2 separate regions of the Homo sapiens genome follow, and region 2 is linked to region 1. Evidence: fine-mapped expression QTL. A gene starts in region 1. The other region holds a variant in brackets. All regions are shown on one strand. Distances are from middle to middle.

The links.
Region 2: its variant is fine-mapped to the expression of STK40 in whole blood (TOPMed, PIP above 0.99).

Annotation. Positions count from the first base shown.
Region 1 is chr1:36,384,632-36,387,377 of GRCh38, reverse strand. STK40 (serine/threonine kinase 40) reads left to right here and starts at 1,454. Exons shown (of 11, transcript NM_001282547.2): 1 at 1,454-1,655. It overlaps LOC124904012 (a long non-coding RNA gene), which reads right to left and starts at 1,187. Exons shown (of 2, transcript XR_007065779.1): 1 at 1,051-1,187; 2 at 1-959. RefSeq lists enhancers at 607-976, 1,007-1,116, 1-1,140 and silencers at 1,347-1,726, 1,877-1,946, 2,247-2,296.
Region 2 is chr1:36,340,451-36,343,454 of GRCh38, reverse strand. STK40 (serine/threonine kinase 40) reads left to right here. Exons shown (of 11, transcript NM_001282547.2): 10 at 7-91; 11 at 1,482-3,004. The coding sequence ends at 1,700. Among named protein-coding and RNA genes, the nearest start is that of EVA1B, 18 kb to the right of the region's middle. The variant G/A (reference allele first, on the strand shown) is at 1,575.

The DNA.
Region 1 (2,746 bases):
AAAAAGCTGTTTCTATAACTCCGAGTCCTCACAGTGATCCCCCAAGCGTTATCCCTGTTTGGACAGAAGGGGAAGATTGGGCAATTTGCACATAGTCACCCAGCTTGTAAGTGATGCAGCAGGGATTCAAAGCCAAGTTTTTTGGAATCCATCAGACTTGATTTGAATCCTAGCCCTGCCATTATTAGCTGTGTGTGTTTGGGCACATTAATTTCCTTCTCTGAGCACTGGCTTCCTCAGCTGTAAACAGCCTCCTACCTAATACTGTCTCAAGTGCTCCATGCAGAGTGTGGCACAACGGTGGGAGCTGTCCTGATTACTCTTGTTAGTCAGCCCTATCAGCAGCTCAGTGGGCACCAGGCATTCAGAGACAAAGGACACAGGTAGAGGCAGCCAGACTTCACTCATATCAGCTCTTGTGTCCTGGCACTGCCTATGTGGAGATGACAAATGCACATACACACAAGTGGCCACACACCCTAGGAAAACCCAGCAGTGCACACAAGCTTAGACACGTGTGCCCACACATGGATATAGAGTGACCCAGGGGACAGCTGGAAAGACAGCCAAGAGTTAGACATCATAAGCAGCAAACACCCTGACTCACACCTCTGGGACAAGGGAGTGGGGCTACGGCCGCTGGTGCTGCTGCCACTGAGCCCTTCTAGCTGCTTCTGCATGCCAAGGGAGGGAAGCCAGGCTCTTAGAGGGCCCCAGTGAGTCACTTGCCTGATGCAATCCCTTTAAAGGGCTCATCTGCTGGTGCAAGAAGCTGATTCATGGAGGGCGTGGTTGCTGGAGGAGGAGGAGAAAGGGACCGAAACTGCAGCAGGAGGAACTGAGGTTAGATAGCTGTAGTCGCTAATAGGAACGCTTCACTGTAAACCTCCCTGGTCAAGGCTTCAGGGATCTCCAGGTTGAAGGTTGCCATCCTCGGGGTTTCTACAAAGGCGACAGACCTAGAGGGAAATGAATTATGAGCGCTGCGACAGGAATTTCTGTCTTTTATTGAGCCTAACTGCAGGGCTTTCCTCACAGAGTTCCACAAACCGGGAAATGAGGATCAAGGATGAGTCACTTTTCTGATAAATACACTACAATTGGCCGATCTTCCAACCGCTGGGGACTTCAACCTCGGCAGGGGGAGTGTAGGGCCCGCGAGGTTCTGTGGGGTCGGGCGGGGCGGTGCCTCCGTCCCAGCCTCGCCGCAGATATAGATCAGCAGTAAGTACCGCCCCATTAGAGCCTCGGCCTCCAATCGTGTAACAGGTTTCGCCCAGACCCCACCCTGAACCAATCCTCAATCGGACTCTGGCCTCTTGCCTGAAGTCTTCCGCCCATCGTCAAGATGGCGCCCCAATCCGAAAGCCGTGGGGCTGGAGACGCAGGCGGAGGGCGGGGCCCGGGGGGGCGGGGCCGCGGCTAAGGCTGGGGAGGAGGGGGGCGGTGCGTCACTTCCGTTGTCAGGTGGCGGCGCCGCAGCCATGGAGGGAGGCGGCGGCGGCGGCGGCGGCGGCTCGGGTGGCTGCGCTGGGAGGCGGCGGTGAGAGGCTCGCACGCCTCCAGCCCGGCCCCGGCCCCCCGGGAGGGAGAGCCGAGCAGCCCCGGCTCTGGGCTACGGACTATGGGCGAATAGCTCTGACCACCCGGCGAAGGTGAGGGCAGGGGTCCAGGAGCGGGGAGCCGGGTGGGGGTTGCGGGTAGGCGGGGCGGGCCCCGGCGGCCGCGGCGGTGGAATCGGAGTGACAGCCTGAAGCCATCTGAGTGCAGCAGAAATGGCCCCGGCGAATGCCCCCTCCTCCGCTGGGGCTCTGCCCTTCCCCGGCGGCAGGGGCGAGGGCTGCCTCGCGCCGGGTACCGGGAGGCCGCGGGAGCTTCAGTCCCCGCCGCAGCTCTGGGAAGTGGGCACTGCCAGCTTTGCCTAGAGTCACCCAGCCAGTGAGTGAAGCAACCGGCGTGTGAATCCAGCCAGATCTTTCCAAAAAGACACCTTCTGCCTCTCCGTGTTTCCCTCCTAATCCCGAGGGTGACTTGATAGTTAGAACGAGTCCCCAGGGAGGGCCAGCCAGGGCTTCCTCCAAGAGCCCTCACTCTGGCACGGGCGCTACCGCTGCTGGGGAATTTTCATATCCCGGGCGGCGTTCAGGTACGAGTCACAGCTACCTGCTTGCCAAGGCCACGTTTGGCCGGCCTTTTCCAAGGAGAGCTTGCTGTGGTCAGTGTTTCACCTGCCGAGCCGGTCAGGCCCGCCCATTCCCACGCCACTTGGCCCCGCCTTCCAGCCAGTTAGGTAGGGACATTCGGATTCCTGATGCCGAGTTTTCTGCCCACCCCAATCCCCAGGTTTGAAGCCCTTTTGTTAGCGGAAGGAAGAGATGACAGCCGCCCTCTGTGTGGCAGGATAGACTTTGCTCTGTTTTAAGTCACTGGAGGAAACCGGTTGGCTTTGCTTTGGTTTTGAGAACCAGTGGGGAAGAGGGTAGGCATACTGGGCTGGGCGCCTTTCCCTCTTTGAGTAGTTTTGCGTGAGATAAGGAAGAGCAGAATGTGTAATTGTAGGGCCAAAATAATCTTGTTTGTAAACAGTGCCTGTGAGCTCCTTTAGTGCTTCCTAATGGCCGTGCTGTGCAAGTTGTTGGTTGGGTTAATCTAGACAGTCCTCATTCATTCATTCATTCATTTCTCACATGACCACAACAAGAGTCCTTGCCTAGAGGCAAGTGCTAGACAGCATAGTGGTTAAGAG
Region 2 (3,004 bases), 44 kb after region 1:
CTGCAGGCAGTCCCTGTCATCTCTGAGTGGGCCTTTGCAAGTGGTTCCTGACATTGATGACCAAATGAGCAATGCGGATAGCTCCCAGGAGGTGAGTTGGGGAGGGCAGATGGGCCATTACCCAGCCCCAAGGGACAGGCTTCTGGGGGCAGGCAGGGCAAGGGCAGAGGTGGCAGCTACCCGCAGGCCACAGAGTTTCCTTGGTCTTCTTCCCCAGCCTTGGGGTGGGAAAGGGAGACTTCAGTCCTCAGCCTGAGCTGCCTGGGGCCTGCCTTGGGCTTGGTGTAGCTGGAGATCTTTGGCCAGAGAGACCTGTGAGACAGCCGAGCTGGAGCCAGTGCCCAAGTGGCCCAGGCCAGCCCTCTCAGCTTCCTCCTGCTGCCCAAGTCACATTTCTCTGCCCCCTGACTCAGAGTTCTCTCTCACCCTTCCTGCTTTTCATTTTTCAGATGATTCATTTCTCCCTATTTCTTTCCTCCCCATTCCCTGCACTGGAGAAAGTGTTGGGCCTAGGGTGGGGGCAGAGACTTGGGCACCAGGCAGCAGAGGGCAGGTGATCTTAGGGTGCCCCCTGGAGGGCAGGGCTTGGCCGAGCAACAGCATTGCTGGGCCCTGGATATTGGAAGGACCTTCCCTCCCTGGCCCACCTTGGAGCTCCACAGTGAGCAGTGTGCAGGTAGGACCAGGAGGGGCCGTGCCTGGGAGAGCCTCCCAGAGCCTCCTGGCCCCCGAGGAAAGAGAGTTCCAATCCCTACCCACCTCCAGCTTCCACCCTTTAGCTGTTTGGCTAAAATCATCATCACTAGCCCGCAGTGAGTGCCTACCCCGAGGGCACCTCATTCAGCCCTCACTGCGGGCCTGCGTGGCCTGTGTTCTTAGCCCCATGTTACAGAAGAGGAAACAGGGTTAGAGAGGACTTTCCCAAAGCCACACAGCTTAGAAGTAGTGGAGCTAAGCCTTGAACCCAAGTCTCATCCGGAAGCCCTGCTGTCTCCTGTGGTGACTGGCACGGGGACACCACTTCAGCTTCTGTTACCATCTGCCTAGACCATCCCAGGGAGCTCAGCATGGGGCCCTGCGTATGTGGCTCCTCCAGGTGCTGCGCCCCCAGCCCAGGGCTTGCTCGTACCTCTTGACGTGCATTAGCCGCCTCAGGGCTCAGAGAACCTTTGCGAGGGGCCAGACAGCTAAGGCTTCTGAGGTAAAGTGACCTCTCACGCAGCCAGTGAGTTAGGAAGCATGAGTCTGCGTCAGTCCCGGGTCCGCAGGGCGGCCTGCAAGGGGAGTTGAGGTTGGCTGGAGGGGGTCAGGGACCCACCCTCAGCGCCACTCCCACCCCCGGCCTTGAGGCCTGAGGGTGTGGTGCCTGGAAGGGTGACTGCAGGAGCCAGGCTGCCAGCACTCTTGCCTGCCCTCCTGTCTGCTGCGCTGCCTTCATCTGGGTTTATCTTTGTCTCCTTCCCACCCTCCCCGCCTCAAAGGCGAAGGTGACGGAGGAGTGCTCCCAGTACGAGTTTGAGAACTACATGCGTCAGCAGCTGCTGCTGGCCGAGGAGAAGAGCTCCATCCATGAC[G/A]CCCGGAGCTGGGTACCCAAGCGGCAGTTCGGCAGCGCACCACCGGTGCGACGGCTGGGCCACGACGCACAGCCCATGACCTCCTTGGACACGGCCATCCTGGCGCAGCGCTACCTGCGGAAATAACAGCCTCAGCCGGGGCCACCAGCACTGCTGCCACTTCTTCCAGCCCCAGCCAAAGGCGTGGCTGTCAGGGCTGGGCCCTGTAGTGCTGGACTCTCCCGGGCCACAATAGGGACAGGGCAGGGACAGGGACAGCCCAGGTCACACGTGGGGTCAGCAGAGGTACCACGAAGCTACCTTTTGGGATGATTGCTCGATTGTTTGGTTTTTAAATCTGAGAAGCCTAGATAACTAATCTGCTTTTAATCACGATGTTTTAATCTACCTCTGTCTCTTTAACCATGCTGTCTCTGGACTGAGCAAGAGGGAGGAGGGAGCCTGCTCACCCCACTCCAGGGCCTTCCCCAGCGGCCACCAACTGACCTGGGGCGCTGCTCCCCACAGTCCAAATAAGCTGAAAGTGCAGCTCGCTGCAGGCCCCAGAGCGAGCTTCCCCTCCTCCCTGCTCTCCCAGGCCCCTGCCACAGCCTCTTTCCGTCCCTCTCTTTCTGATCCAGGCCCCTCAGTCCAAGCTTTGGAAAACCTTCACCTCATCTTAAACCGAACTCAAATATATTTATTTTTTTACCATACCAACTTCTCTCCCATCTCTAGGTGGCTCAGTCCATGGCCACTCCCTGCCCCCAGCCTGGCTGGACAGCAAGGAATCCACAGCCCACACGTGAGCTCCCTCCTCACCCCCAGGCAGGGAAGCCCCTCCTGCCAGTCCCTGTCCCCTTTCAGCCCACCAGTCCCTCTCTGCTGCCGGTGATGGGAGGCCTTTCTAGACCTGGCTCTTTCTCTCCCGTCTCAGTGGCTTCTCTGAGGTGCTGTACACGCGCGTTAACCTGTTCCCTTCTCTATCCTTCCCCGTGGTACTGAGCTCACGTGGACTCCCAGTGCGAAGGGGCCCATGGGTTGGGCTGCAGGCCTGGCCGTGAGCGGGGGCTGCCTGCACGCTCCCCTAGCCTACTCTTGTGTTTAGGGGATGGTGGGAACATATCCCAGTGCCCTTGCCTCATAATAGATGTGGTGACTCTCCCGGTAGACCCTAGCAAGGGTCCTCCATGGTGGTGAGGGACTCAGGAGAATTGTAGGGATTGGGGGACCCTGCCTGCCTGGCTTGAGAACAGCCCTGCTGCCCTTTTGAGCCGAGATTTTGAAGTGGATGCCCGTCTTGCCAGAAATGCTGTTCTCACCAGAATGCCCCCTCCCCTTGCCCTTACTGGACTTGGCCCTGCCTGATGCCAAGCAAAGACCCTTCCCCAGAGGCCTACCCCCCATATGTCCTCAGAGAGGCTGAGTGTCCCCTCCAGGCAGTCATGGGC